Linked DNA regions of Homo sapiens: regions 2, 3 and 4 are each linked to region 1. Evidence: fine-mapped expression QTL. A gene starts in region 1. Each other region holds a variant in brackets. All regions are shown on one strand. Distances are from middle to middle. Region 1 holds the start of FMN1 (formin 1). Region 2 overlaps FMN1 (formin 1). Region 3 overlaps FMN1 (formin 1). Region 4 overlaps FMN1 (formin 1).

The links. PIP is the estimated chance that this variant, and not a neighbour inherited with it, causes the effect. A credible set is the group of variants that fine-mapping cannot tell apart.
Region 2: its variant is the best candidate, but not a certain one, in a credible set for the expression of FMN1 in whole blood (TOPMed, PIP 0.73).
Region 3: its variant is the best candidate, but not a certain one, in a credible set for the expression of FMN1 in whole blood (INTERVAL, PIP 0.52).
Region 4: its variant is the best candidate, but not a certain one, in a credible set for the expression of FMN1 in whole blood (INTERVAL, PIP 0.56).

The regions. Positions count from the first base shown.
Region 1 is chr15:33,190,164-33,198,437 of GRCh38, forward strand. FMN1 (formin 1) reads right to left here and starts at 4,551. Exons shown (of 21, transcript NM_001277313.2): 1 at 4,415-4,551; 2 at 3,746-3,897. It overlaps LOC105370759 (a long non-coding RNA gene), which reads left to right and starts at 4,748. Exons shown (of 3, transcript XR_932090.3): 1 at 4,748-5,412. RefSeq lists silencers at 4,530-4,869, 4,644-4,853.
Region 2 is chr15:33,144,827-33,153,100 of GRCh38, forward strand. It overlaps FMN1 (formin 1), which reads right to left. Exons shown (of 21, transcript NM_001277313.2): 4 at 8,222-8,274. Among named protein-coding and RNA genes, the nearest start is that of FMN1, 46 kb to the right of the region's middle. RefSeq lists an enhancer at 494-1,693. The variant G/A (reference allele first, on the strand shown) is at 3,854.
Region 3 is chr15:33,120,361-33,128,634 of GRCh38, forward strand. All of the region lies in intron 4 of FMN1 (formin 1), which reads right to left. Among named protein-coding and RNA genes, the nearest start is that of FMN1, 70 kb to the right of the region's middle. The variant G/A (reference allele first, on the strand shown) is at 3,895.
Region 4 is chr15:33,156,626-33,164,899 of GRCh38, forward strand. The region is part of intron 3 of FMN1 (formin 1); the gene reads right to left. Among named protein-coding and RNA genes, the nearest start is that of FMN1, 34 kb to the right of the region's middle. RefSeq lists an enhancer at 6,552-6,601. The variant A/G (reference allele first, on the strand shown) is at 4,217.

The DNA of each region.
Region 1 (8,274 bases):
TGGCTCAGCAATCCTTACAATAGCAAAGAGCAAAAAACCTGCTCTTTAATACTTAGAAGTATTATCTTCTCTACTGAGAAGAGACTGAAAAGAGTTCTTGAAACTCTAAAGAAGAGATTTTAGAGAACATGAGACAGTGCTACAGTCACCTGTGTGCTGCTCAAAAGATGGCATTCATTCAATTTCATTTGAATTTCATTTGTGCAAATATTAAGGTTTTGGAAACCATGAGGTTTCCCAAAATTACTATGGTGAGTGAATCACCAGGGAGGGCTTCTCCTAATAAGTAGACAGTTCTCTTTCTCTTTGAGAGGTCCATATTTTTCCTTATGTTTCACGGAGGACATCATTGGAGAAAGCACCTAGGCCTAGATGAATGTGGATAGATACTCACGTGGGGGAAAAATGGAAAAACAGGGCAACTATGGCTAAAGGAGTGTTTAACAACAAGCACTGCTGTCTGACGCATTTCTAGACTACTAGTCTTCAGATCGTATCATGTTCTCTGAGCTTCTTTAACAAAAACATGAACTAGAGCACTCATACTGGAAGGCCTGTGGCAGGGGTGTGAGTACTAGTATCCTGGCAGCAGCATCATAAAGGTGTCTCCTGCCCCACTTTTACAGCCTTGTCTATCCTCCCAGTCAGCATTCTGGCGGTCCCTGCTACTTCTCCATTAATGCCCAGATCCTGATGACAAACATGAACGTTAAAAAGTCCTGGCTGGCCGGACGTGGTAACTCACGCCTGTAATCCCAGCACTTTGGAAGGCCGAGGCAGGCAGATCACAAGGTCAGGAGATCAAGACCATCCTGGCTAACACGGTGAAACCCCATCTCTACTAAAAATACAAAAAATTAGCCAGGCGTGGTGGTGGGCACCTGTAGACCCAGCTATTCAGGAGGCTGAAGCAGGAGAATGGCGTGAACCCGGGAGGCGGAGCTTGCAGTGTGTTGAGACCGTGCCACTGCACTCCAGCCTGGGCAACAGAGCGAGACTCCATCTCAAAAAAAAAAAAAAAGTCCTGGCTACCTCCAAAATATTTTGCCCAATAGCCTGTCACGTGGAAGACCACAGTAAAAAAGCGTTTCATTTGAAAGGTGTTCATCATTAGCAGTGACCTATGACACTTTAGAAGGAAGAGATAGGCATAGTTCGAATAAGATGGAACATAAAACAAGTCAGTATCAAGTTAAGGAAATAGGAGGTGTGTTGGTTAAAGAAAAAAAAACTTAACTAGTAGTCTGCTTCCTAGAGAGATGCATTACAGAGATCATGGTCATTTCAGGCCAGTGGGGAGGTAAGGATGTCCACAAGGAGGACCAACTCTCTTCTCTCTCCCTCATCCTCAAACATGCACTAAGGCAGTATTTGCTGAAAGCGTAGATAAGCACAGAAATCCAGGTTACTCTGGGAGATTGTTTACTTTTAGCCAGGGAACTTGAGAAACATAAGTGAGAGGGAATGCTCCATTTCTCAGACCCTTGCTTTTATGCGCTGACAAGGTAAAGAGGTTTGTTTCCTTCTTTACATCTCCCCGCTTTAGTAATTACTATTTTGCAGAGCATGGGGTTGATGCTTTGTCAGCACTTCAGCACAGACACTAAATACAGAGATGCTTCAGTTCCTTCACAGTGCCAGCCTGTTGGTGCAAGCTTATATTTGCTGCAGGAGAATACAATTCCCATGGTTTAGCGTCTCTGCAAGATCAGGCAAATCAGATTAACAGCTGTAATTCTGTCAACACAGGCTGGGACCTGTTGAGAATTAAGCTGATATTTAAGACAGAGACTATGTACATCTAAAAATAATAGCTACTCTTAAAACCAGGTCCCAAAAAGAGATTATGAATAGCCCCTAAACGTGGTCATACTACCAACCAGTAGCATCACTGCAAGATATGAAATATCCATTATGAACTTTTACACTGATACGAATAAAGTTTTAATAAGAAAACCATTAAAGGCAAGATCATCTAAAGCACACCACAGCTTGGGATGGTGTGCATGAATCCAAAACTTTAACGTAAAACTAGACTTTGAGGCATGGTATATGAGATAGGAGAGAAGCATTTCTCAATTTTCTATCAAGGATATTTACCATCATCACATCAAGTTCCAGTCTGTCCCCATTCCTCTTCCTCTGGGAACAGCTCCACCAATTTTATGTCTGGAAAGGGAGGATGACCAGGATATGAGACCTACCCTTAGACAATCATAGGTCCTATGGGACCCCATTCCCTTGGCCAAAGCATTTGGTCTAGGCAGGGTTAAGCCTGTGACAAAGGCTTCATCAATCACAGTCAATGCATTGAACACTCAGTGAGAAAGAAGCAGTCTAGAATAGGGCCAGAGGCCTGGAAATCTTCTCTAAAGCTGCATCTTTAACGTATCTCAACTAAGAATCGGCTAAGTACTTGTGAAGGCTGGTGAGAGAAATGCCTGTCCAAACACAGGTGGCTTCAATAGTGGCACCCCTCTAAGATGTAGTGCTATAAGGAACCTGAAGACTACCATACCCCATTTGCATCAGCTCTGACACCTAAAAAGGATAAAGACAATGGAAAAAAATGCATAATTTTTAGGAACGAGACTGGCCTTTATTATCCTTCTTGACTAGTATTATTAATAGCAGTTACTATAAATTCCCCACTTATGTGCCAGAAACTACTGAGTATTTTACCTATATTATCTCGTTTAATCCTCACACCTTCTCCTAAGAGACAGGTAGTATTATCCCTATTTTACAGACGAGAAATTAAAATTAAAGAGGCAAGCAACTTGCAAAAATCACTGAGCTAGTCAGTGGCTGGTCCAGGATTTGAACCTATGTCTGACAGGTTTATGAGTTTAGCCATTACAATATACTGTCTCACTACTCTTCTCCATTGTTTCCCTCCATTGAGGCCATTGCTTCTTTGTTCCTGCAATATGTCTAACTATTCATTGGTCCTGCTCCTGGACTGTAACACAGTTGAGAGAAAGGAGACTAGTGTTTAGATATCTGATCAAGAAGACCCGAGACCTCATTGATTCATTGTGGAAGCAACATCTTCCACAACGACAGTTAATCTGGTATGCAATTCTCAGCTATACTGTTTTCCCTCCCAAAAAAGGGTTAATAAGTCTGTGATCCAAGAGATTTGCAGTAAGCCCTAGAAACAGCTAAGCAACGGCTGTTGAATCCCATTGGTGTGCCTATAAGATGCTACCTGGTGTAGAGAACAGAATATAATTCTCTCTCCTAGGAATTTAGATGCGCCCCTCCGCCCCCCTGCCAATACACACGCAAGGGGGCATAGCAGATGATGGCACATGTCCCATATGCAAACATGAATAGTAAACATGCTTTAGTACAGCTGGAGCTACTGTAGCAGAAAGTCAGGTTGTCTGCTACTCCACCTGGTCTTCTTAAAGGATTGGGTCTGGACATTCACCTCTCAGTGACTGCCACTCCCCATATATATCACAGGTTCAGGCTCTGCATTCAGCCCATTCGGAGTGTGTGAGTGCTAACATGGAACTCTCCAGGAGACAGCAAGCAGAAATGTGGATGATTAAAATAAAGGGTTTTCTTTGGCAATCTCAATTGCAAATGAGGATAAGGAAAATCCTCCCAGCTCACACTCTGCTCCCAGCTACTTGTTCTTGAGTTAAATGAGGGCTTGGCTCTGGCCTCAGGGGGCAAGAGCACTGTTCGTTATTTGGTGGTGGGGGAGGGGGTTGGGGGATCCGTCAGCACTTACATGCCTTTAGAGAATCTGCCTTTACAGAACTTGAAGAGCTCTGATGGAGGAACAGAGATGCTGTGGTGGTAGTGGCCTTGGAGGTGGTGGTAGTGGCAATGGTGATGATGATGATGATGAAAGAAGAAGAAAACGGTGATGGTAAATGTCATCTATAAACACAAGCAAAAAGCAGCAACAGATACCTTTCTAGTCATTGCCAACCATAGTCATGAAGCTGCTTCTGTTCCCAATGCAATCCCATTGTGGTGCTCCCCCTCTGCGCTAAACACATCCAGCTTCAAAAAAAAAAAAAAAAAAAAAAAAAAGCTCTGCATCTCTCCGTCCCCCGCCCTCCCGCCCTCCCGCCCTCCACCTTTCCTGTGCCAAGCTGGGAATGAGACTGCACTGGCGGGTCAAGGGGGCTGGGACCTGAGAGTCAACGACAGGAGTTCTGTAGTGAGGAGCGTTGGGATGACCCGGAGGGCCCACCAACGTACTTGGGAGCAGCTTGGTGGGGGAGCTGGAGGAACCGACACAGAAGGGGAGGAAGATAAGCTGGCGGGGTAAATAGACTTGATGCCTCATTCCAAGAACCCTGAAAGCCACGGGGGAAGGCGGAGCAGGCAGCCTTTGGTCGGGAAGAAGAGACGGGCAGATGGCCAGCAGAACAGACAAGACTCTCTTTACCTGACCAATACTCGGGAGGCTGGTCCCGAGTCCCAGCTACTCGGGAGGCTGAGGCAGGAGGATTGCTTACGGCAACAGCCGTGGCGGCTGCAGCCTCGAAGGATGCTGCGCTCCAGTCCAGAGCCAAAGCCCAAAGGGGCAGCTGCGCCGACCTCCACCGAGGCTCCGCCCCACAGGCCACAGGCCCCGCCTTCCTAGCACGCGCCGGCCTGACGAGCTGTTTGGGGGAGGTGAGCAGTAAACTGATCGGCAGGGCTGAAGACCAGTGGAAACGTGCAGCGGCGCCCGAGGTGGCAGGGGAGGCGGGGCGGGAGGCGGCGGTGCCCAATCAGCAGCCGAGCCGTTGGGCCAGGCTGGGAAGCAGTGCTGTCTTTTGGCACCGTCTGATCCGGGCTGAGGGATTGAAGGCGGTGGTCGCTAAGCTAGGTCTAAGACGGACAGCCAGGGCGACAACCAGTCTCTCGCTACGTGTCCCCAGCTTCCCTGTTTCCGAGCGCCTCTCAAGGCGCACGCTCTGGACTTGTTCAGATGGGGGAAGGGAACTGGTCTGGAACTCCCCACTATTCCCGAGGTTCCCACGCCTCCAGATCCGGAGAGGCCGTTTCGCTCCAGTGGCCTGGCCCCCCTGCCCCCTCAGCCTAGCCGTTCTTGATCGTAAGTGCTAAAAGGAACAAAGAAGGAGAATTCAAGAATCCACACATAAGCCCAAACCCTGACAGGAGCCTTTTCCTCTCCCATCTCCTGCCTACGCTTCCTCCTAGTAGCTTTTTAACTGCTGGCGGTTAAGTTACTTTGACTGGTTTGAATTAAACGCAAAATAGGTTTAGGCTGAGAAATGGGCCAGACCCTTGGCGATCTGAGAAAGAAAGACTGAGTCCGGATGTCAAGAGGCCTGGGCCTCACGAGGGAGTTTGTCTGCTTATTTGAACACCTCAGAGTTGAAGATCTTGTTACTGCTATTTCTGTGCTGGTGAATCAGTACAGACCTTGATGCCAAGGTACTGTTTTGTCCCCAAGTGTCTAATCATTACTGAAATGAACTACCTTCAAACCTTTCCTAAGAGGATTTGAGGCCTTAATGTCGTTGAGATTTGGAATGTGATTTGAGTGACACTGAGATCTTTTCCAAGTAGGTAGGCAAGAAAAGGCATTGTCTTTAATCTGCTTTTGGATAAATGCGAACTGTATCACCCATTTGGTACTTGAAGATAGAATTTTGTCCTGAATAGATTCTGTTTTCAAATAAGTAAATGGGAAAAAAATTTGGAAGGTATTTTTAAGGTGATTTTTTTCACTATTTTTTTTCTAGAAATAATAGTTTATTGGAACTCTGATTTATTCTTAATCACAATATTAGCCAAACACTGATAGGCCCTTTATTTATTTGTTTTTTTAACACACGGTCTCACTCTGTCACCCAGGCTGGGGTGCAGTGGTGCGATCTTGGCTCACTGCAGCCTCAACCCCGTGGGCTAAAGCCATCCTCCCAACTCAGCCTCCAAAGTACCTGGGACTACAGGCGGGCACCACCATGTCCAGCTAATTTTTTAATTTTTTATTTGTAGGGACAGGGTTTCACCATATTGCCCAAGCTGGTCTCAAACTCCTAAGCTCAAGCGATCTTCCCTTCTCAGCCTCCCAAAATGCCGAGATTACAGTTGTGAAGTGCTGTGCCCGGCTCCATAGGCACTTCATATACATTATCTCCTTCAATCCTCATATCTTCCCCTTGTAAATTCCACTTATAGATAAGAAAACTGAGGTTCCCAAAGTTCAAGTAATTGTCCTTGGGTCATGTTCGTAGTTAGGAGTAGAGTCAATACGAGGTCCGTATATCTCCTGTCTAAAAATCATCATCATCAGTTAGAAGAATAAGAAGCCCTCAGTACGACTCTTAATTCCTTGATGCTTTTTTCTTTTTACCTGAAAATTGTCATATAGGGATCCAGTTTTCACACTACTGACTTCTTGAAACCGCAGCCTCAGAAGCACCTTTAAGAGTGAAGTGTCACCTCTGACATGTGTTAGGAGCAATTGCAAGTCAACTTTGCTCATAGAAGGGAGCTGTGATTTCCTATTGTTGGGAAGGAAGTAAAATTTTGCAGGGCTTAAGTCAAACTAGGTTTTAATTGATGTAGAAATCTTTTAAAGTCCACCCACAAAATAATATCATGGTCGTGTGAGCTGAGTCCTAGAAAGGTAAAAGGATGTTAATCCAAAGTCATATTCCAGCATTGTTTCAACAGTGTTCTGAAGAAATTCCTAAATCCTACTCTGGCCTTTAATCAAACCTGGAAATATGTACTTGCTCTAAGCTTGGTAGGGGGAGGGAGTAGGAGGTGTTTTAAAGAGAAAGGAGAAGAAAAATATTTTCCCAAAGAGGCTATTAATAAAGACAAAATATAAATAAGTTAAAGGTTATAGATCAATACAAAGGTATACACTAATTAACAAGTTAGTGGAGTTTTGTTTTGTTTTGTTTTGTTTTGTTTTGTTTTGTTTTGTTTGAGACAATTTCACTCTGTCACCCAGGCTGGAGTACACTGGTGTAATCTCGGCTCACTACAACCTCTGTCTCTCAGGTTCAAGTGATTCTCCTGCCTCAGCCTCCTGAGTAGCTGGGACTACAGGCATACACTACCATGCCTGGCTATTTTTTGTGTTTTTAATAGAGATGGGGTTTCACCATGTCGTCCAGGCTGGTCTCGAACTCCTGACCTCAAGCAATCTGCCCGCCTCGGCCTCCCAAAGTGCTGGGATTACAGGCGTGAGCCACCATGCCCAGCTTGTTAGTGGAGTATTTATGTGATCCTTGCTTAATAAACAGTTACTGGCCGAGAGGATTGCATGGACCCAGGAGTTTGAGACCAGACTGGGCAACACAGTGAGACCCTATCTCTACAAAAAATAAATGTTAAAAAATTAGCTGGGTGTGGTGGTGCATGCCTGTAGTCCCAGGTACTCGAGAGGCCGAGGCAGGAGGATCACTTAAGCCCTCGCACTGCAGCCTGGGTGACAGAGCTAGATCCTGTCTCAAAATAAAAAATAAAAAATGAAAAAATAAACAGCTACTAAGTGCCTAATATATGTTATTGTACTAGACTCTAGGGATATCCAGTTCAATAAAGCCCATTTCCTAATGGAAATGCACAGCCTAGCTGAGAACACTCAATCTGGACCATACCTGAAGAGATCACTTTATCAACAAAATTACTAATCTTCACAACCACCCAGCAGGGTAGGTGTTATCACCACCTCAAGGCTGAGGAAACTCGGACTAGAGAGGATAGTGACTCACTTGAGGTTGCAAGTTTAAGAAAAAGTCTTGACCCCAAATCATTCTGACCTGGAGGCCCACATTTTCTTTCTTTCCTTTTTTTTTTTTTTTTTTTTGACGGAGTCTCTGTTGTCCAGGCTGGAGTGCAGTGGCGCAGTCTCGGCTCACTGCAACCTCCGCCTCCTGGGTTCAAGCGATTCTCCTGCCTCAGCCTCCTGAGTAGCTGGGATTACAGGTGCCCTACCCAGCTAATTTTTTGTGTTTTTAGTAGAGATGGGATTTCACCATGTTGGCCAGGCTGGTCTCAAACTCCTGACCCAGTGATCTGCCCGCCTCAGCCTCCCAAAGTGCTGGGATTACAGGCATGAGCCACCAAGCCCGGCCAAGGCCCACATTTTCACAATATACCATACTGCCTGCCTAAGAGAAAAAGCTGTCTCTGATAATCCTTACCGAAATGCATTCCTCTGTGGAACATGTGAAGTAGATGATACAATGCCTATGAATTCGAAATTACTAAATTTGGTCAATTTGCTTATCAAAGGGAACCAAGAAAACGGAAATAATGGTCCTTGCCTACCTG
Region 2 (8,274 bases), 45 kb before region 1:
ATCATTGGAAAATACCAAAAGGAGTGGGATTTTAAAATCCTTTCTGCCCCTATGAACCAGCAATGATGTGTAATTATAATAAAGCTAATTTTAAAAAGTGCTTTATGAACTATTTTCATTGATATTATTTCATTTGATTCTCAAAAAACCGCTATGAAATTTGACATAATTCCTTCCAGCAACTGCAATCAGGGGAGTAATAACAAGCTAAAAAATCGGTATTTCACTGACTCTACCGATTTTGGTGCTTCCCTCTCCCCCACACCAATTTCCCCTGAATCATTCTAGAAATCATGTGTGCTCGTGGATGTAATCCTTCCTCCTCATCACTGCTTTCATCTCTTGCTTCGGCTGCACAAGGTGCCTCTTGATGCTTCCAAAATGGGCACCAGGGCTGCTGTAGTCAAAGGTGCCAGATGTGTTGCCCAAGGCACAACTGCCTACCTCTCCCGCTTCTCCTTGGGATAAGACAAAATCTCATTCATTCTACCATCAATAAAACCACACTGGATAAAATCTAGTTCATTATGCCCTTTCACACCGTGCTTCCATAGCACCTCCAATAGGGACACTGCTTCCCCAAGTCTGTACATCCTGTTATGCAGAATTTGCTTTCAATGTCCTAAAGAAATTTTAGTAACATTACTCTTTAAATTTTCACACTGCTTTTTTTATGGCAGTCCTCTCTCCCTATCTCCAGGCATGAATCCATGGGGCTGGCGCAACAGAAAATCTGGAGAACATACGTCATGCTATTTTCAGTGTTGTCCCTCCCCGTGGTAGCCGCTACCCTCGGATGTGGCTCAAATTCTTGCTTTCCTTAAGATGAGCTTTGTCCTGTGATGATCATCCCAGCCCTCAAGCAGAAGACTCTGGACGGGCATGACTGTCAAATTATCCAGACATGCCCAGACAAGTCTGAATCCTAGGGAGAACATAGCTGAGGCCCAAGCTGCACACCTTATTTACTCTCCACAATTCCTCTGGGCTCACCTGGAAACCAACAGCTTTACTCAGTCACAGGAGCACTTCTGAGTTCTCCCTCTAAACACAAAACTGAAACTAAAGACTTGAACGTTTTAGAAAAAATACGTGAAATCTGAATGAACTGATTTGTGACTTTATTGTGAATAAAACCGTATTACCATGAATTTTTTTTTTTTTTTTGAAATGGAGTCTCTCTTTGTCACCCAGGCTGGAGTTCAGTGGTGCAATCTCGGCTCACTGTAACATACTTCTCCCGGGATCAAGAGATTCTCGGGCTTCAGCCTCCCGAGTAACTGGGACTATACCATGAATTACTAATACAAAAATCTGAATCTCAGCGTTTGAAGTCCTCACTCACTTGCTTAGCGTGAAACCCAGTCCTCAAGAGAGGAAGTCCCTACCTCTCTTGAACAGCTCTTCAATACTGCAAAACTGTTGGGCTTCTGATGATAAAGTTCTTTCATTTCTTTTTGCCAAAGCTCCTTCTTCCTCAAGTGTAGGGGCCCTCCCAGGAGGATGAGGAAATGTTTGTCCAAGACATTCTGGCCCAGAAGTGTTCTCTCTTGGTACTTTTCCTTCAGTAGTTTGTTGTTCCTCCCTATTATCCAACATCGTTCCAGGACCCCTCAAATCCGTCTGTATCCCATACATCTCTGAATTCCAATTCTGACCTGATTTCAAGTTCTTTCCTATAAGGCTCTGAGCCTTGTTTCAATGTACTGGAACAATCCATGACTGTGAAAAAAAAATTCCTAGAACCTTCTATGAGAGGGAAGAAACTCCAGAACATGCCATGATAGGAGGCTGAGCTGCCGGGGCACACAGAGGAACTCCAAGGGGATGGTATGACCTAATATCACAGCCCAGGGGCCACAAAGATACATTAGATATGGTCTGATTCCAATTTCAAAATTATCTAACAGAAGTCACTATCCCTGTAAGTGATCAGAAAGCAAATACAGTGAGATCGGCACCACAGTCATTTATCTGCTCACAGCTATCAAGAGGAAGGGGGTGGGGCCGCAGTGGTATCTGCTGTTTTCAAAAAGTGCTTTCTCAGGATTCCCTAAGAAATAAAACAAAACAGGCCGTGGCTCACCCCTGTAATCCCAGAACTTTGGAAGGTCGAGGCGGGCAGATCACGAGGTCAGGAGTTCAAGACGAGCCTGGCCAACGTGGTGAAATCCCATCCCTACTAAAAATACAAAAACTAGCCAGATGCACACCTGTAATCCCAGCTAGCTGGGAGGCTGAGGAAGGAGAATTCCTTGAACCTGGGAGGCGGAGGTTGCAGTGAGCCAAGATCACGCCACTGTACTCTAGCCTGGGAAACAAGAGCGAGACTCCGTCTCAAAAAAAAAAAAAAAAAGAAATAAAACAAAACATACGCTTTCAATATTCAGTACTCTGCTTTATCAGTTTGATATAATACTTGTAATCCAATTACAACCCGAAAAGGTTGTCTTTTTCTCATGTCCCAACCAATAATGACATGAGGCAGAGTGTTGAGTTAACAAATATATCCAATGAATTATTCTCTAAAATTTAATATCTATTTATTTTAAAAATAGTTTTCTCTTTTACATTTATCAGTGGCTGTTACTTTTAATCATGGTGTTATTCTGCTATTTCTACACATCTTTGGAATTATTTCGGAAGGCTGTGCATATAGCCAAAGGCCACAGACTGCCACCCTTGCTTTATATCTTGTACTCTGAATCCAAAAATAGAGACAAGTGAAAAGCAATCCAGTGGAAGGTGTTATCCTCAAAGCATAATTCAATCTTAATCTGGGGAAAAATGCACAGGCATAGAGCTGGCTTGAGATTTTAAAACATCAGATTCTGGCCATGGTCCTGGCCTTTAAATCACATTCCCCTTTAAAAAGCAAAACAAATGAGAAAAATACTCATTTATTTTATACAGAAACTGACCTTAAAATACAAATTGTTCATTAGTAGAACATTTATTTCGTATTTCACATGCCAATGAGCTATTCTTATTTGAGATCATTGGAAAAGGCACTCTTTAAAATTCTCTTTATGCTTTACACAAAAAGCAAGCAGGCACAATGGGATCTCAAACACTGTTAAATTTTAAGAGCTTTGTGTGTTGTTTTTTGAAAAAAAAAATATTGTTTCTGAATCCATGGACTAAAAATCATATTACCAGGACTTCTAATTCACTTTCTCTTTGTATGAACTTTTAACAATAAAAAGATGGTCAACCTAATCAAATTTAGAGGAGAAAGGTCACATGAGAAAGAAATAAAACACTGTAATAATCATTTAAGTATTAAGATTACCACTGTTCTATAACAAAACATATACCCATATACCACATAAACACACATTCTTCTTTCCCCTGTTGCTCATTTAAAATTCCATCCCATCTTTCACATCCATTCACTAATAAATCGGAGGGAAAAAACTGTAGCCACTACTTCCACTTCCTTATCACCTACCTTCAGCCTCTTATAATCTACTCATAGACGTCATTCTACCGAAGTAACTCCCTCAAAGAGGGTTAGAAGCAACAGTATTTTCCTGTTCTTTATGGCATAATTCATCCCCCTCATCCAGACTCCCATTGGCTCCTCCAGATCCACTCCCCATTTTTCTCAACCTGCTCTTGGCCCTGGAAGGCTGACCCCGTAGACCACAGCCCCTGGCTTGGCTCCTTTACACTCTGCTTTCTGGTTGGTTCAGTTAGAGGAGGTTTACAGGAAGTGGTCCAGAGGAGGGTGAGGCCAGGATATTTATCCCCACAGCTTCCTCTCCGCTGGGTGTCTCTACCAGAAACCACTGTTCCTGACAGAGGGTCCCCTCCATTAATCTCCCCTGTCTGGGCTCCAGTGACCACGCAC[G/A]CCTTCCCTTGCGCCTTCAGCCTTGCAGGTATCTGTTTCCTCTCAGGACTGTGAGTAATCCAGGGGCCTCTCTGAATTGCTTTCTTCCGTTGGTTTCTGGATTATGCTCTATCCTCATCCTATCCCTACCTCCTGGACTAGTGCTTTTTGAGCATGGCTTTTACAGGTCTCTAACAACCTACATTTCCCCTTGTAACAATGATATATTCTCAATGCTAAAATTCTTGCCTCAAAGGACATGGGGAAAACATAGAAAAGTGTACTTTAGCTATAATTGTACTCCCCACCCCCGACCCCACACACAAGCACTCTAGGTGGTGAATTTGTTTTTTTCTTAAAAAATAAAAGTAGTTAAATCACTCTTGAAGAATCATAAAAGTAACATATTCACTACAACCAGAGAAACAATATAAAAATATGTAAAGAGAAATAAAATTAATGCCTTTCTCCAATTTTTCCGCATCTTTCTCTTTCACTTCATTCCCCACCTCCACTGCCTTGACCCTCAATAAGGAATGTTAACAGCCTGGCCAGTGTTCTTCCACACTCATCTCCATGATATTCGAACCTGTACCAAACATATATATTTATATATTGGGAGGGGTGATAGTTGTTTTACAAAACCTGAGAGCATTTTATGTATTATTTTATAACTCAAATAGATACAAATCTAGATCAGTACTCTGAACAGCCTCATAATATTACAGAGCATAAATGCACAATCATTTATTTAACCATTTCTCTAATGATGAACATTCAAATTTTTTCTAGCTATTTTTTGCCACTACAGACAATGCTGCAATAAACATCCTTATGCCTAATTTCTTATTGGTACATATATTTATGTAAGCTAAATTCCTAAAAGTGGGATTGCCAGGTCATAGTTACACAGAGTTTTAATTGGGATCCTATTACTTTCTCAAAAGTGCATAGCAACATACTTTATGTCAACTTAATTCCTGTATTTGTTTTATATGGGTAGAATATGGCTGATGCAATTTTTGAGTCCTATTTTCCCTCCATTAATTTTAGATAATTTTCTTTGTACTACATACTTTCTGTAGTAACCTTAAATGGCTGCATATGTCTATTAATGTCGTGACGCTTCTTTACAATTTTATTGGAATTGCATCAAACCTTAATATTAATATGGGAAGAGTTTATATTTACTTCCCATAATGTATATCCACAGAGACAATCAAAGCTTTGACAGTAGTATTAGGGGTTTACACATGTAAATAAAATTTATTTCATGTATGCCTCTTAACTCTTAATAAGTTGACATTAATTACATATTTTCATGGGCACAAGAATTGATCAAGAGATTCTCAGTTCTCAATATCAGGAAGAACTATGCCTGGAGCATATGCTTCCATCACCACATCAGTGACTTCAGTCAAAGGAAAACAACCACAGGATTACTCAAGAGCATACTAAAGATTGGGCATTTCCCAAGTATGGTGAGCCAAGCTCCCTGTGATTCTTCTGGCACTAAAAGGGTTTACTTTGAATCAAAGGTAAATGAAAGCAAGCAAAACAGAAAGGAATCCTAGCACCAAGCTCCAAGGACACTGCTTTGCAGGCTAGCACAACTAGAGTTCCTCAAGGTTTGGGGGAAGACCATACTCCACAAAGGCTTGGGAACATTCCACATCAGTCTCCACCCGCCAAATAAAATACTATAAAACCAATCTCCAGGTTGGTGGTGGGAGGAGGCAGGAGAAGAAAAACCTGACTACCAGTTCTTGTTAGTATATTCTCTATTTTATCACCACTATGTGGTGATAATGGAGATTCCCATGCATCATCCTTGAAATGAGAAGTTAAGAAATTACAAACCCAACAGAAGGTGCATCGCTGGCCTCTGTGACATCCTTATGCTACATCCTGCATGAATGGTAATGTCAGCTTTAACTGCTTAGTCTTGTAACAAGGATAAGCGGGTTTCACTGGTTCCTGGGAATTACTACTTGCCTCTAACATTGAAGAGTCTTCCAACTGGAAACAGATCTGATTACTTTTGCCAGACTTAATCTCTTTCTTAAGCAGTTAATGAGAGCTTTCAATAATCTTAATGACATCACTTCAATAAAAATACCTAGATGTTATTTCCACAGGAAATAAATGTCCACAGACCATAAACTTAATCTGGTTAATAGCTAACCTGGGAGAAAGGTGGGAGTTGGGTTCAGATAAAGGGACACTGTAGTGTGATGGTAAATGAATTATTCACCCCTCTTTCTGGACTGCTGGCAACTCTCTGAGCCCTCTTCTGGGTTTAGGTGGGAAGAGAAATGAAGTGAAAGACAAAGGTAGCTGGAAGCAGGAAACTTCTCCCTGTATGGGCTTCCCAGCTGCAGGGAGTCACTGAAGGGTTCAGAATATAAAGAGGACTCACAGCGACAGGAAAGGGAAAATCAAGAGAGAAAAGGGAACTAGACAGAGGATACAAATCAAAGGTACTATCTGGGGAACTCCCTCCCTCATGCCTTTCAAAGTAGGGCCAATAGGAGGTAATGGCTGGAGGCCCTATAGGAAGTCTCCACAGTAGAGAAGTTACCCATATCAAAAAAAGCTCTTACCCACTTCTACTCTCCTTCCCTTTTCCAGCTTCTTCTTTTATAAGGTTAGAAGCACAGGAGATGCTTACAGTTCTTATGACTGGTTCCTGAAAGTGCTGCTGAAGATCCCAATGGAAGGCTGAGGCCAAAGTAAAGGGAATGTTGAGTGATTGCACGGAGAGGCCAAAGGAACATGTGATCATCCATTCACCTTGTCACTCAGTGGGCTCACGGTCAGTCTCCAACAGAAACTGAATGTGCTCTGTGTGCCTGCCTTGATCCAGATACACTGGAGCTTTTATGATATTTTTCAAATAGAAAAAGGGCAAAATAATAAGATAATCCTACATTGAGGAAAAAGAGGATTTACTAAAGAGCAATGTATTTAATGCACAGTTTCTGCAGTTTTTGGAGTTAAGGCAGCTAAGATATTCTACACTCTTGCCTCCAGAAATCTCTCTCTTAATAATCTCAGAGAGTTTCCTTGTCAAGTGTTTCTAAGTCCTCAGCATCCGACAGGAGAAAGAATTTTCATCACTAGGGTTCTGCAATACATGATATAAAATCTACGATTCTGTGACTTTCCTGGTGAAGCATATTGGTTATGAAAGTAGAAAATCTTATCAAAACAAGATTTATTGCAAAAAACAAGATGAAAAGCATTTACCACATTTTTAAAGCTCTACCCCCTGGATCAATGATCTAGAGAGATTTATAAAATTTCACAAGTTCAAAATGACCAAAAAGCTTTGAAGCTCCTCTTCCCTAGATAGATATTTTTTATCTCAAAAATTGCACTTGATGTTTGCTCTAACCTGTAAGAGACTGTCTATCATATTAGGAGCTATTCCCTAGAAAAAGCATTGCCCACATGCTGTTAGAGGAGCTCTGAAAAAGAACACATAACCTGCACAATGGCATATAAAACCCTGAGATTCTGGCCACAACAGCCTAGAAAATGTAATGAATACCAGAGCAGTGCTTCTTTTACACAGTCTTTTTTGGTCCTATTGAATCCACAAAATTATTTTCATGTAACATTTTAAATCACATTAAGTATGTAAGTCAAATGAGCTCTTTAGCACCTTTTACATAAGAAATGATGCTATACCAGTAACAGTAACAACCCATAAGTAAAAGATACCTACGGAATAAAGTCAATTTGTGCTTATTTGGGAAATTTAAAAACTGTAAAAAAAGAAAACTTTGAACCAAGTTTCTTCAAATTAGACTGAATTCCTTCCTGTTCTGTTAAAACACAAAAGTTTTTGTCATAAAATAATAGCACTTATCGAGATGATTACTAAAAACAAACAAACAAAAACCTCTAACTACAGACATAAGTGAAGACACAGCGTACTTTTGCACTTCTGCTTAGAGAATCCCTAGAATGACTCCAGCAGCATGAATGGCAGAATTTAGGTCAAGAGGCCAATTACCCAGTGTTACCATCAAAGGCAGGGACAAGTTACCACTTCTCTCTGCCTGTTCCTGTTTTCCTTTGAGAGTCACTGTTACGCAACCACAGAAGTAACTTTAGAGGATGCCAAAAAAAAAAAAAAAGAAAGAAATAAAAGACATTCACAAAGTCCTGGAAGCAACTATACCTCTGAACCACTAGGTCAAAACCATCCTAATCATCTCCACACCCCGCTGTTCCACTCCCCGTTTTCTTGCTACAAAGTGAAGTAATAGGCCTAGGAATTTTGGTCCATTGTTAATCAGTCAGTTTCTAAGTAGCACAGGCAGACTGATAGTTCCCCAATCAGCCAAGAATAGATTCAAAGCATCTTAAACAGAGACTAACCTGGAGGTGACTGGTGCTGGGGCTCAGCTGTGGTCTTCCCTGGCCCCAAGCTC
Region 3 (8,274 bases), 70 kb before region 1:
CAGGTCAATGGATTAGGTTACCAGTTGTGCCCATAGTGTTTACAGAGTGGTTAGCTACTGCACTTTTCCTACACACCGGCAGGGAAGACATGTTCAAAGTTAGCCATCTAGTGCATGTTTATTGGTGGACATTCCAGCAACAAGGAATTGTATAATCCAAAAAATGAGAAAACCTCATGTCGCCAACCCCAGAGATTACTATTTTTTTATGTGGGGATATACGAACACACACGTAGTGATACCAAGATACTGTTCGGCAGCTTTTGTTGTCTTTTCGTGTTCTGGTATTCCTGGATCATTGGTGTGTCAGTTCATATATATCTACATCATTCTTTTAAGTGACTACATACCCATTTTACAGACATATATATAAGATATGGAAAAATTTATTCTACCTATTACCCTTTTACTGCACATTTGGTTTTTTTAATCCTATGAACATTCTTGCATGTTTATGTATTTTTAAAAGTATTTCTTTTGAATCTACTTTCCATTTTTTTACAAGCTCTCCAGGACTCTTTCTTCTGAAAATATACCTGTTGCACTATACACTGAACTACTTATAGTACAGTAAGCCCATCATCTTGGATGCAAAGTAAATTCACCTCTTTTCCTCCCATTGCTTCTTGATAGAGGTTTTAGTCTTAATTATAGGATAGTACTCTGCCTTCATTCATATAACCCAAAAATGTAAACTGGAGAACCTTCCACATGGGACAGATGAAAGGTTGGCTAGATGATGTTGTAACAAGAGTATACAATACCCCATCTATGATTTACAGTCTACTTTCTCCAAGGACTTAGATCAACAACAACAAAAAATTAAACTCTTGCCTTTTATCAATAGAGCAGTGGGTCCTGTGTCTTGAAACAAAAAGTATTCTGCAAATAAAACTTCATCATATGCCTGATTCTGAGTTTCAATACCACAATGACCAATTACTTTGTACCTCTGCTCCCTCAGACCACATGGCGGATTCAGGGTCACATTCAATGCCAGTGTCAATATTGTTTACAATGTTCTGGACTGTCTATAAATTGAGAGCACAAAGGGAGAAACTCATTCCCTCATTTCCAGTATTACATGTAGTTCTATATGATACAAAGGTAGAAATCATTTGTCTATTACACCATTTCCCAGTAAAGTACATAGTTGACAAGTTGGTTTTGTTTTGTTTGTTTTGTTTTTTAGATAGTCTTGCTCTGTCGCCAGGGTAGAGTGCAGTGGCGCAATCTTGGCTCACTGCAACCTCCACCTCCCGGGTTCAACTGATTCTCGTGCCTCAGCCTCCTGAGTAGCTGGGATTACAGGTGTCAGCCACCATGCCCAGCTTCTTTTTGTATGTTTAGTAGAGACAAGATTTCACCATGTTGGCCAGGATGGTCTCAATCTCCTGACCCCTCAAGTGATCCGCCTGCCTCAGCCTCCCAAAGTGCTAGGATTATAGGCGTGAGCCACCACACCCGGCCAAATTTTTGTTTTTCTGTTTGTTTGAATTTTAGGAATTTGAAAACAAAAAGAAAGCAGTAGACTTAGAGCCACAATAAGAAAAATCTAGAACTTAATTAGGTCTCTCTCATTGTGTTACCAATTAATTCATTTATTCATTTACCAAAAGTGTACTGCAAGCAAACAATATGAAGAGGACACGATCTCTACTTTCAAGGAGCACAATACAGTCAGGCCAATAGACAAAGAACAGACAAATAAAGAATACTACTCTGGAAGTGCAGGAAAGGGCCTGGGAACTTTTACAGTTAACTACACAGTGAAACAAATTATCCCTTGTCCACGGAATTAAGTGCAATGTTCTTAGGTGAAACCTAAAAGATTGAAAACTCTGACCTATAGTCACCAAAAAAAGTGAATAAGCTAAGTCTTATTTATTCTTGTCATATTCCAATTTTGTGTTTCTACTCCGTAAAACGTTGTTGTGTTCCGCAAATTCAAGTAACCATGTAATTGTGCTTTAAAAGAAGAAAATTTTTTAACCCAGGCATGTATTAAACAATTTTCTCCCAAAAAGTACATGCCTGGTGGGAAAGTAAGGTAGGTCAGAGTAGGTTTTATAAAATTAGTATTGGCTTTAGACAGTACACATTGGCTCATCCTTTTACTGCTCAGCCCACAGTACATTTCATGTATACCTTCTAGATGTCCCAAGTATTTAAAATGCAACAGGATAAACAACCAGGCCAATATTCTGACATCACCTTCTAAACAGTACCACTAGCTAATGCAGCAGTAATAAAATCTAATGGCCACTAGTGACAGGTACAATGTGAGAGAGAAAACTTGGAGTTTGTGTCAAATCTAGGAACACTAAATTGGCACATGCTGGCCTATCCTACTCCAGGTTTGCTCCTTCAAAAAGCTAATGATGTGTGTCAACAAAGATTGACCACGGCAACAGATTGCTGCCATTATTCTGTTACATAATCTGAAAGAAGAGGGAACTGGAATATTTCTTATATATAGGAATAGAAAGAGATTGACATAGTATAGGCTATCCAATCTTGATAAAGCAAACCAACATCTATGCAGCATGTACTATGTGCCAGGCAGTGAGCTAAATGCTTTATATATACATGGCCTAACAATATCCTGCTAGGTAATTAATGTCACAAATAAAAAGACAGGCCGAGAGAGGTTAAGTAATCTGACCATGTTCACACAACTAAATAGGTTTACAGCATCTCCACATCCTTATAACTAAAGCCCAAATTGTAGAATCATCTAGAATGCCTTTCTTTCAACGTCATATCGTCAAGCCTTGTGGATCTATTTGCGCAATGTTTTCACATCCATCCACTTATTTCCAGGCCCAATTCAAGTCCCCATCAACTGGGGATCACCAACTGGCCTTCCTTTTTCTAACTTATTTCTGTCCACTCTGCTGCTTAATCTTTCCAAATCAAAACTGGGGTCATGTCACTCCTTTGCTCAAAGGCCTTCCATAGCTTTTCACCATCTACTGAATTAGGTAAATACTCCTGAATCTGGCATTCAAAGCCTACTGCACTATATAGTATACAGACTTGGTTCAAACAATGTTTGTTGAATGAATACATGGCACTAAGCTAAGACTCACTATCTGTGGCAATAGTTCCCCAAAGTAGTATCATAGCATATTAAGTAATAAATATGTCCTCAAAAGATAAATACAAGGCCTAGAATCTATTTCACCCTAAAACCAAGAATATTGAGGAAAAATTAAGTCTAACATATGGTATGGGGGTACAGGTTATATAGTGAGGGTTGTTGATCAAACAGCTAGCTATTTTATAGAATGCATGTTTTAACACAGATTAAGTTTTCCAAGACATGAACGTCCCTTCCATGAATTCCTCACTCCAACATCAGCACATTGCTTCCTCCATTTGGCCTTTTGGCTCCACTACGTAAAGTTTCTTAGTTAGAACTTCTTGTATTACAAGTGGCAGAAATCCAACTAAACTGGCTTAGGCAGAATAGAATTTGTTCATATAACCAAAAAGTCCAGGATTACAGGCATGGAGCTCAAATGATATAAGGAATCTCTCTACATCTCTCGATTCTGTTCTCCCCTCATGGTATCAAAGATAATCATTACAACTTCACAATTAGATTCTTCCAGCTCAGTAACCATAGCTACTAAGACAGTGTCCCAACTATTCCAGCAAAGGACTGGGGAACTACTCTCTAGAGTATAACTTAGAAAATGTGCCCGTCCATAAACAGATCACAGTGACCAGGTGACGTGAATTATCATTCAGTCCTGGGTTGAGGATCATCTCTAGATCCAATAGATCAGCTTCATCCTAACCATGCAGAGTGCAAAGGGTGAGACGTGGCTTTTCAAAAGAAAAGTGAGGTGATGTTAAAGACAAAAAGGAAACAGATGTTATGTGGAG[G/A]AAAAAAACACATTGACATTCACTGTAGAAAAGTTCTGAGACATAAAAGTGAGAAGGGGGTCTGGTCAGCGTCTTGCTGTGCTGTTATAGCCTCTCCGGGCTACTTCTGATCAATGAGTAGGACCCTCTGTACATTTCACCCCCCTTGCCATTTTGTGCCTTTATCAGTAAAGCTTCCCATGGCCCTGCCATTCAGCAGAGGCGGCAGCTGCATGACCTTCTTAAATTACTGCTTGGGACTGAGCATTGGGATTGCTTTAAAGCTCTCCCAAAGTGATCCTAATGTGTAGCCAGGGTTGAGTCATCGGAGTAGGAAAGCCCTTGGTCTTCACCATCAGCATATACAAATATTGCATTAATCTTCTAGAATGTATTTGGTATCTAATAATCTGTGTTCTTTTCAATAAAAATATCTGAGATTATTCCTTTCATTTTCAGAAACTGATCCACAAAGTCTGGAAGGAGAGGGAGGAAATCTCACAAATCAGACACTAAATAGCACTCCTTTGTGCTCCTTAATTTTGGATTTTGTTTTCTTTTTTGCATGGGATCAATTCAATACTAGATGAAAAAAATGCTTTTCATTTTTCTGCATTTTTTTTTTTAATTTGGAACGGGAAACAAATCATAGAGCCTTGTTTGGCACAAGGGCAAATGTTAAAGATACTATGTGCCACTCCCCTCCACTGAGGTTTTGATTTCTTTGAAATCAGAGGCAATTCAAATGAAGTTATATTCCTGGAATGTATAAAATCCCTTCTCGCATCCATGTCTACTCTATCATGGAATGCTTAAACAATTTAAAGCGACTGAGTTTTTCCACCAGCCCCTCTCTGTGAAATAACATAATGCCTTAGAACATTACATCTAGGGAGGCCAAATGATGCGGTAGAATGCAGAGTTTGAATCCCTGATCCATCACTTACTGTGAATCACTTACTCAGCTTAAGAAGGTCACCTAATTTTTGTCTTCCATAAAATGGAGGAAATAACCTCTCTCAAAGACTCTTGTAAAGTTTAGAGATAATACATAGAAAGCTTCTGATGCATAGTAAGCCGTCAAGAAATGTTAGCAATCATCATTTAGGAAAATAGTTTCCTTTTAAAATTCAGTCTTGAAGGTTAGTTCTAGTTGAAGAAAGGTAGACTCTTCCTAGATGTACCAGTGCACTAAGACAATATGTGTAGAAGATTATTTAAAGGAAATATCTAATGGGGTTATACAAATTAGTTATGTCTGGTCTTCAAATGAACCCTTCTCAAATTTGGATATCTAAATTACAGCTTAAAAAAATTCAGAATAGGTGGGGCATGGTGTCTCACACCTGTAATCCCAGCACTTCGGAAGGCCAAGGCGGGCAGATCACTTGAGGTCAGGAATTCAAGACTAGCCTGGTCAACATGGTGAAACCTCGTCTCTACTAAAATACAAAAATTAGTCAGGTGTCTCAAAAAAAAAAAAAAATTAAGAATGAAGTCTGTTAAATGGCCAACTTTGTATGGTGAAATTTTGGTAAAAACTCCCACTGTTTTAGTGACTGAGCCCTTCCTATTTTCATGTAGTTCATCAAGAATGTGCTTCATCAGTAATACTAAATCTCTAAATGTTTAACTTCTCAAGCATGACTGATTGGCTATAGCCTATTGAAAAGTGCCAAATTTCTTTCTAAAAACCATCTCTAACAATTCACGGTTGAAGGCTTTTTTGTGCAGTAAGTCACTAAGTTAGGAAAGTGGCTTCTAAATCTACACATGAGATAACAGTAATACCAAACTCACAGTGCAGTTGTGAAAAACAGATAAGGTGGATGAAAGGGCTTTGCAGGTGATAAAGCACTGTGTAAATGTTACGCTTTTGCAGCTGTGGCTGCCACAGCTGCTGACTAAATGAGTTTATCCCCGGTCATGAGGAGCATACATCCTCATTAGAGACATGGTGTGTTATTAAGCACCACCTAAAGACAGAGAGTTTTCCTAGACTTCAGAGAAGGAAGATGGGTGGAAAGATCAAGGAAACACCACTGTGAGGCAGGTACGGCACCAGGCCCTCATGGATGGGCAACAGTCTAATAGAGAGGAGGCAGAAGGTCACTGTGGGCAGGCAGTCCAGCAGAGCAGCACGCAGTGTGCACCAAAAGGAGCCTGGAGGCCCAGAGCTTCTGGAGGGTGAGAGGAGAAGGTGGGTGCAGAGGGCAGAGTGGATCCCATAACGTCCAAAATTTTTTCAAGACAGACCAACTCTACATCTACTCCTCTTATTCGCTGAGTACCTCCAAAACTCACTGAAAAACTCCATAGATTTAGCTGAAGTTCTTAGCACTTCTGCCCATTCTTCAATAGACCAGAAAGAAGAAAGGAAGCAGCAGGAAATGGGCGGAAGTGTTAAGTTGCAAATCCTGGCAGCATGCCCAGAATGGGACCAACTCAGCAGACAGGAAGCGAAGGCAATAAAAGAGCAATCTACGCTACAGGCAGGCTGGAGCAGAAACTCGGGAAAGGAGGGAAGACAGATTACTGGAACAGCCAGTTTGCAGGGCCATGAAACCCGAACTCTTTTCGATCCGCCTTCCTGGCGAGTCTTCTGGCTCTGAAACTTTGGGAAGGAAAACTGATACCCATAAATAACTGTGGCTGTATAACTGCAAAGTGGGATAAACGTTTCATCTTGATTAAACGTAAGGTGACTCCTGACAAAGAACTGTGGTTGGCTGACTCTGTGGAGAGGCTTGCAAGATGCTGTCATGACTACATGTGGGAGTTTGAGAAAACTGCAAGATGCATGTTGCAAAAAGACATATTAAGCTTTCTGCTGTTTTCCAGGCACTGTATCAGGAGCTGGTTGGGGGAGTGATGAACGAGATAGCATCCTGTTAACAAGCAGTAGCAGACTTCCCATGTTACATTCTCTCAAACAGAGAGGAGGTCAGGCCAGATCTGTTTCTCCTCAAAAATATAATCTCAAGAAAAATCAACTGGTCGGATCATCACTACCTAACCACAGATCTCCCTCCTTATTCTTCACAACAAGAATCCGTCAAATAAGTAACGTCATGGTTAATGCTCCTCCACATTCAACCTGGACCCTAAATCCCTCTAAATAACTTGACTCTGTTCATACACAGACCACCCACTTTACCAGTCTCAAAGGATGGACCAGAACAACTATTTCCTTGAGTTAATGAGTGAACCTACATCTAACTGTAAATAAAACACTAAAAATAGGTAACTATTACTTACTAAATGAAACCCAAGTGTAACTTTCCATTAAACTCAACCTGAATAAAGTTTTTAAACAGTGAACCTTTTAAAACAGAAACCAGTCTGTAAGCATCCTAAAGCTAGTCAACCAAGACAGAAGTTAAAACACAAGTATTTTCCAATCAAACTCAGCACCATTCCAACTGAAGCTTCCACTTGGGGCTGTGAAACCCTCTTTGGACGTAAGCTATGCTGAACCTGTGGTTTCAGGCAGGTTATATTGTAATGATAGGGGAAACCAATGCCACATCCACTTGCAGTGTCTGTAGAGAACTACATCTTGCCACACATCCAAGATCTCATTCCTCAGTCTCCCTGAAAAATTCTGTTGGTAAGAGAGAAGTGAGACAGTGCTGTTTCCGAGGAATCTTATGCCTCTCTTTATTCTACAACAAATGGAGACAGATGGAAATAGAAGAAGAGGCAGCAACAGGACAGGAGAAAGGAAAGAAAGGGGAAAGGAAGGTAACAGAAGGGCAACGGGGGAAGGGGAAAATAGACAAATCATAGCAGAATGCCCAGACACGACACAGGTCAGGTGACAGAAAGGACAAAAAAGATGGGAGAAGAAAACCAAGAATGAGGCCAGAAGAAGGGAGAGGAGACACCATGGTGATGGGAGCAGTAGAGAGTGTAACAGAAGTAGGATGGAGAAATAAAGCAAGCAAACAAATTGCTCCCGGGAAAAAAAGCAAAAAGCAGACTTACGAGCAACCAAAGACCATAATTTCCAACACCCTCAGAGAGCAATAATTAGAAGCGCAACAGTTGGGAATTTGAACATGGCTGCTGACTAGGCCCGACCATCAACGGGGTCTGATTCCGGGCCTGATCCTTGACGATCTCAAGGATTCACCAGCCTCTCTCCGAACTCCAACTGCCCGCCATTTGTTCATCAACAAAATCATTCTTTCTACCTCCTAAAAGAATTTTTATTCCTATGACATTGCAAGGTCCATTTATAAAAAGCCTCATGCAAGTTCTCAGAGTCATTACACTGAGAATGAAACAGCGTGATATGTTAAGTAAACACATACCGAGTCCGGAGTTTCTTGCTTCCGATGCGTTCGTGGTCTAACTTCACAAACATACCCGCGGACCTTTGCGGCAAGTGTTACAGCT
Region 4 (8,274 bases), 34 kb before region 1:
CATTTTCTAAAGATGCACATGTGTAGGGATACTTAATAATTATTGGTAAAAACTCGCTGCATGTGTCCAAGAACTCACTTAGGAGGTAGTCTCTTATTGTGTAATTTATAATAATCAGTAATAAAAGCAATTGCAAAGCTGTCAATATCCGCTGAGCACTAAGCATTAGGAGTTCAATTAATGAATTCTCAGACAAACTGAAGGGAAGCAGCAGATGAGCTATGCTGAGTTTTGGAAAAATAGAATGCTCTCCTCTCTCTTCAAGCATCATTTTCCTCTAGCTGTTCTCATCTCCTCAATTCCCATGGATTAGGAGTAGTGTGTGATGTTGGGGGAGGAGTGTTAAAAATTTTCAGAATTGGCTGGGTATGGTGGCTCACGCCTGTAATCCCAGCACTTTGGGAGGCCGAGGTGGGCAGATCACCAGGTCAGGAGATCGACACCAGCCTGGCCAACATGGTAAACCCCGTCTCTACTAAAAATACAAAAATTAGCTGTGTGTGGTGGTGCATGCCTATAATCCTAGCTACTCAGGAGGCCGAGGCACGAGAATCCCTTGAACCCAGGAGGCCAAGGTTGCAGTGAGCTGACATCGCGCCACTGCACTCCAGCCTGGTGACAGAGTGAGACTCCATCTCAAAAAAAAAAAAAAAAAATTCAGAATCTGTTCAAAGTCACAGTTTATGCTGTAATTTCAAATAGGAATATGACTGCGTATTCTATTCCCTAAGAGAGGGAATTTGTATATACTGAGCACATATACACTTATATTTTCATTTTGTTATCTCATGGAATCAGTACATCTCCATTTTACAGATGAGGAAACTGAAATTCAGAGATAAAGGAATTTGTCTAAGGGAATATGGCTCAGAATATGCAAGTTTCAAACCCAGATCTCTCTCACTACATTGCTTCATAGGTCATGTTGCTCTTCACCTACTGCCTTCTACTAACAAACTGGTTTTCCATCTAATTTGAATAGAGGAGTTTTTTTTGTTGTTTTCTGTTTTTTGTTTTTTTGTTAACTTGGTGTTACATAATTTCTTAACAATGTCTCACATCTTGCTATTTTAACGCTCACGGAGGCCAGGCGCAGCAGCTCACCCCTGTAATCCCAGCACGTTGGGAGGCCAAGGCGGGAGGTTGCTTGAGCTCAGGAATTTGAGACCAGTCTGGGGAACATAGTGAAAGCTTGTTTCCACAAAAAAAGAGAAAATTAGCTGGGAATGTGGTGCAAGCCTGTACTCCCAGCTGCTAGTGAGGCTGAGGCAAGGGGATTGCCTGGGAGGTTGAAGCTGCAGTGGACTGAGATTGCGCCACTGCACCACTGTACTCCAGCCTAAGTGACAGAGCAAGACCCTGTCTTTCAAAAAAAAAAAAAAAAAGAAAAAGAAAGAAACAAAAACCACACTCATTGGAGAGCTTCAACATGTCTGATCAGGTAAAGTGCTGCTCCCTAAGGTCATCCCTTAAACAATAAAATCTAGAAAAAGGGCACCAGGAGTTCACTACAGCTGGTATAGGCAGTAAAAACTCAATGAAGATTCTAATTTAGAAATAAAAGAAGAGAAGGACTGACATAAAGGCTATATCCTTTATGAGAATTACAGACATGTAGTGCCTGTTTACAGGATTAAGTACTTTTTTCCCCTGGTCTTTATAAGTCTTGGTTATGTAAATGGAGAAAATGTCATGGTTAGAACTCTATATGTTAGTCACAGTTGGGAAACTCAAGTCAAGGTTTAGAAAATTATAACATTGGATTTTATAGCAATAAAGCCACAATGCAAGGCATAAAGCTACTATTATAAAAAAAAAGAAAAAAAAAAAGAACTTTACACTATTGCCTCATCCACCCAGAAACTTCCATACAGAATGCTCTTACCACACTTGTGGTGCACATGTCCGGAACCAAAGAGGAGCAGAACAGAGGAAGAAAAAAGAAATGGGAGTTTGTCTCATGATCTTGGGACTACAGTTCCTTTGTTCTGGGCCCTGGGAAGCAGTATGTTGTAAGAAACTTTGTACTGAACTAGACTAAGGAGTTTCACTATCCCAGGATCCATAGGAGCCAATGAAGAATCCTAAGCTACTTACTTATACTTGTTATAAAAAGATTACTTCAGAAGTAAAGTAGAGAGTAGACAAGTAGGGGGTAAGACTAGTGGTATAAATCACTTAGAAAGGTCTTTCAGTATTCCAGAAAGAAGCGATAGCCAAAACCAAAGCAGTAGCAATGTGATGGAGAAGAGATGGTCAATTTTAAAAGATAGATTTCAGGCCAGGCATGGTGCCTCATGACTATAATCCCAGCACTTTGGGAGCCTGAGGTGGGTGGATCACTTGAGTTCAAGACCAGCCTGACCAACATGGTAAAACCCCATCTCTACTAAAAATACAGAAAAAATTAGACAGGCATGGTGGCACATGCCCGTAATCCCAGTTATTTGGGTGGCTAAGGCATAAGAATTGCTTCAACCCAGGAGATCTAGGCTGCAGTGAGCCGAGATTGTGCCACTGCACTCCAGCGTGGGTGAAAGAGTGAGACTCTGTCTCTAAATAAATAAGTAAAAATTAAATAAAAAGATAGAATTGAAAGGGTCTGGTGGTTAATTGGATATGCGTGACAGGAAAGAATTTGGTTTCATGATTTCAGATGTAGGTGACTGGGTAGATTGTGGTGCCATTCACAAAGATAAATGCACGAAGAGGAATAGGCTTCAGGGGAAGAAGATGAATTCAGTTGTGGAAATATTGAATTTGATGTATCGGGGAATAATCAAACAAATATGTCCACAACACTGCTAGATGCAAAGGGATAGAGAATGAGATTTAGGCTAAAGTTAACACATTTAGAAGGAATCATACAGTATATAAGGTGTTTCAATTCCATGTAAGATAAAGTAAGTGCACTCTATCCTAGCTCTCCCACTGAATGTAACAGAAAAAAAACACCAATATAAAATGCATGGAGCAGCTATTTGAACACTCTAAAAGTAAATGGTAACAAGCAGGTTGATGAGGAAGACCAGGCTTTGAAGTATCAACCAACTGTAAAGCAGCTAACTTTCTCAACTTTGTCCTTCAGTAGCCCCTAAGCCTGGACTCAAATGTGCCTGAAACATGGCAGTGAATATCAGCACAAACAGAGGAAGATATAGGAGGAGTCCTGTAATTCAGAATCAAGAATAGAAAGAAGTTTTCTTGTTGGCACCTAAAACTCTGAGGGAGGAGAACATTTCTCTATGATTAGAGGAACTGTAGTCCCAAGATGTATGGGGGAAAACCCTATTTCTTTTTCTCTCACTCTGTTCTGCCTCTCGTTGATTTCGGGTGTGGGCAGAGTTGCAGGAAGTTTGCAGCCAAAGAGTTGGAGGGTTAGTAGTCCTAGATTTCTAGTTAGAGGACTGAAATCAGAGCCTCAGAGAGCCCAGAAGTATGGGAAAGATTATGGAGAAGGATCTTAGAAAGTGACCCATAAAGTTGTTCATGGATACCTGAATTAACCCCAGCCTGTGGATTGTGGATCTGAACTTAAACACCATACGAAGGGCTTTGAAAAAAAATGAAGAGATAAGACAACTTCCCAGGGCCTAGGCTGGCCACTGGGTGGCACATACATGGGATGGAACACTGCAAAAGCTTTGAAAATGGAACTGACATGAAAACCACAACCCACAGGAGGCTCATTGGAACTGGAGGACTGAGCCAAACCAGGTTGACTAGCTGGTTGTTTCAACAAAAAAGGATCTTCCCTGAGCAAATGAACTTCAACCTCAACCCTCTAGAGTGTTCCATGTCAGAAGAAGGCTTTAGACCAGGGCAAACTCTTCTCTGTGACAACCCATTAGAAAGTCAGAATGCAGTATGGAATCATCACACATATTTTTCATCCAAGAAACCAGAGGAAAAAGAGCAGTAAGTCCTAAGAGAAAAAAAGCAAAAGGACAGGAAATCACTGTGCATTGGGGTTAAATACACTGGCATTGCAATTCCATGCTGAGTTCACAGGACTATTTCAAACAGCATTGCCTCATTCTACTTGGACTCAAATGCAGCGGCTCTGCAGAGGCACACACTAAATTATACATCTTAATTTGGCCTGTGAAGTGACCTGCTCTGGTTATGTTCAAGGTAAAAGCACTTTGCTTCCCAGGGAGTCTTCGTGTCTTCTATTTCCTCTGACAGGCTCCAGGCTGGCATTCTGTCTATGACA[A/G]CATTGCAGCAGTGATTTCTCCCTTGATTCTTTTTCCAATAAACAAGTAGATTACCTCACTCTACCCCAAATGGAAATATCTGTTCTGCCTCATCCTAATGAGAAATGATTGCCTTTTAGTAGATGCTATCTATTGTTCATAGCATATTTCACCAATGCTAAAAATAAGATTCAAGAATTAGTTGTCGTCATTCTGTCTGCTGACGGCAGACATCCTAATTGATTTTGGCCTTAAAAGGCCAATGCAAAGCTTTCTTTGCCTAGTCATTGGCACAGTCTTTCCCTGTGACTCCATCTGAGCCCAACACGGCTAAGACAGATTACCTGTATTCCATTTCTAAACTGGAAAATTTTTATTAGTTCAGTCAAATTCACACTCTACCTTTCACACCCTCCTAAGACCAAGAGACTGACTTTTATGAACTCAATCAACAAGTTTCCTTGCCCTGTGGCTTCTACTAGATTTAGCCATTGGGAAACAGTAACAGATTGGAGGGCAGATGGAAGAGGGCTCGGGACCTTTATCCCCTGACTCCCTATCTCCTGGGCTATAGTTTGGTAGTAGGCGTGCCCTCTAATGAAGACCACGCTCCTCTGGGGTAGTTCTCCTCCAGCTGCAGCTGCTTTCTCTGAGTACCATTACTGCCCCCTCCCCTTGCTCATTTAGTCCTAGATGGCTTTGAATTCTGCCTCTCCTGTGTGATTTTGGACAAGTTATTGCCTGCCTTTCTCCTTTCCATCCACCCTGGGATGGAGTGCAGCTTTTTCAAAGAGTAGATTAAAAAAACAAAGGAAGGCTGGGCGCAGTGGCTCACGCCTGTAATCCCAGCACTTTGGGAGGCTGAGGCGGGCGGATCACAAGGTCAGGAGATCGAGACCACCCTGGCCAACACGGTGAAACCCCGTCTCCACTAAAAATACAAAATATTAGCCAGGTGTGGTGGCGAGCACCTGTAGTCCCAGCTACTCAGGAGGCTGAGGCAGGAGAATGGCGTGAACCCGGGAGGTGGAGCTTGCAATGAGACGAGATCGTGCCACTGCACTCCAGCCTGGGTGACAGAGCAAGACTCCGTCTCAAAAAACAAAAAAGAAAAAAAAAAAAAGGAAGTTCTGCAATAGGTTAATGGCTCTTCTTCTTTCCATGGAGTTTTTCTTCTCTTTGCTTTCCTTTTTGTTTTTCTTCTTTCTGAGATAGGGTCTCGCTCTGTCACCCACGCTGCAGTGCAGTGGCGTGATCTCAGCTCACTGCAACCTCCAGCTTCTGGGCCCAGGCAATTCTCCTACCTCAGCTCCTCCAAGTAGCTGGGAAAACAGGTACATGCCATCATGCCCAGATAATTTTTGTATATTTTGTAGAGACAGGGTTTTGCCATGTTGTGCAGCCTGGTCTCAAACTCCCGAGCTCAAGTGATCTGCCCACCTTAGCCTCCCAAAGTGCTGGGATTACAGGGGTGAGCCACTGAGGGGTTTTTCTTTAAACAACCTCCACACTGTAGGAGTAAGAACGTAGGAATAATAACAAAATTACTACAATACACAGCAGAAAGAGACCTATAAGGTATCAAAGAACAAATCAGAGGAGTTAAAAAAAAAAAGGAGAGTCAACATCATGTTTGTAGAATCAGAATAACACTTCAGGCAGAAGAAAGCATTTTAAAATAGCCCCTCATTAAAATATGGGCCTTGGACAGGTAGAGATTAAGAAAATGAACTTCCAAGAGGAAGAAACGTAATACAGGACTGAGAAAACAAGGATTTTAATCAGGTTGGTAGGATATTAACGCTATCTTCATAGACAAATGACTCATGAAGCCATGGATGATTTTTGACCAGGGAAGCAGTATGTTCAGCACTACTCTTAAAGATTAAGTCAAAAGTAATGTCAGAACAGATTGGAGTAGAAAGAGAACAGACAGGGAGTCAAGAATGAGGAGCTGGGGACAACATCAAATTCTGCAAAGAGGTCAAGAAAGAAACAAATTAAAGTGTTACAGGCCGGGCGTGGTGGCTCACGCCTGTAATCCCAGCACTTTGGGAGGCCAAGGCAGGCAGATCACCTGAGGTCAGGAGATTGAGACCAGCCTGGTCAACATAGTGAAACCCCATCCCTACTAAAAATACAAAAACTAGCTTGGTGTGGCTAATTAGCTGGCACCTGTAGTACCAGCTACCTAGGAAACTAAGGTGGGAGAATCGCTTGAACCCGGGAGGTGGAGGTTGCAGTGAGCCGAGATCACGCCACTGTACTCCACTCCAGCCTGGGTGACAGAGTGAGACACTGCTTCAAAAAAAAGATATGTTACAGACAGTTTTAGGTAGCAACTTTAGTAGAGTGAGAGAACACCAAACTAATTATATTACAAAGAGTAAGTGAGAATGCTAGTGGTTAAGACAAGAAAAATATGAGTAATAACCTGTACCGGTATTTGCTATTTTGGTTTCTTGTCTTGTCTTTTCTTTTTTTTTTTTTGAGACTGAGTTTCGCTCTCGTTGCCCAGGCTGGAGCGCAATGGCACAATCTCGGCTCACCGCAACCTCTGCCTTCTGGATTCAAGCGATTCTCCTGCCTCAGCCTCCCGAGTAGCTGGGATTACAGGCACGCACCACCATGCCCGGCTAATTTTGTATTTTTAGTAGAGAGGGGGTTTCTCCATGTTGGTCAGGCTAGTCTTGAACTCCTGACCTCAGGTGATCTGCTCATCTCGGCCTCCCAAAGTGCTGGGATTACAGGCGTGAGCTACCATGCCTGGCTGTTTTGTTTTGTTTTGTTTTGTTTTGTTTTGTTTTGTTTTTGAGACGGAGTTTCACTCTTGTTGCCGAGGCTGGAGTACAGTGGTGAGATCTTGGCTCACTGCAACCTCCACCTCCTGGGTTCAAGTGATTCTCCTGCCTCAGCCTCCCAAGTAGCTGGGATTACAGGCAGCCGCCATCATGCTCAACAAATTTTTGTATTTTTGGTAGAGATGGGGTTTCCTCATGTTGTCCAGGCTGGTCTCGAACTCCTGACCTCAGGTGATCCTCCCACCTCAGCCTCCCAAATTGCTGGGATTACAGGCGTAAGCCACTGCGCCTGGCCTGTTTTTGTTTTTTTTGAGACATGGAAAACAGAAGTATGTTTTCAGTTTGAAAAGAAGGAAGTAGCAAGGAAGGAGATATTGATGATACAGTGAAAAATGGTATGAAACATGGGAAAAAAGGCACCAGAGGAAGAAGACATGGGCTCAAGGACACATGGGGAGGAATCAGCCTTGACAAGAAGGAGGATGGTTTCCTACTCAAAGACTAAGGAAAAAAGATTATTATGAGATAGCACTGAAATTGAGAGAGTTTACTTATTTTCTCAATGATTTTTGTTTTCTTCAAAAAGTCTGTAAATTTATGATTTTCTTTGCATTCTAACAATGTCACAAGAAGGAAAGCACTAAACTAGAGTTTCGGAGGCAAAATTCTTTCCTGTGAAACTATGATTTGACTGTGAGACCACCAGCATAAGCTATGTCTTATTTTAACATATGGGCAAATCTCTACAAAAATGTAGAGGACAAATTTCAGCCAATATAACTATTTTAGAGGACGAGTTTCTGGCCAAAGTCACAGCTGGTTATTAAAGGGAAAAAAAGGGCTCCTTTTTGTGTACGTTTTTTCATTGCTGTTCATTTTTTGACCTACAAACCAACCCACACAGATACCCAGATATGTTAACAAGGTGTGCGCATTGAAGATTCTCTCAAAGACGTCGAGGAATTCTTTCTTTGCCTCTCCCTTACCTTTTCAAAGCTTAATTACATAAAGAAAAATGAGTATTAGCTTTCCACATGATTTCCATGAAAATTAGATATTGAGATCCTCAACACATCACTGGTTTTACATCACTATCTGGCTAACATCATCATCTACAGGAGATGTATGAGTATGCTTAGGAAATAAGCCCTTTCCCCCTGATTTAATTTTTAATTTTTATGGGTACATAGTAGGTATATATACTTATGGGGTACATGAAATATTCTGATACAGGCATATAGTGCATAATAATCACATCAGGGTAAATGGGGTATCCA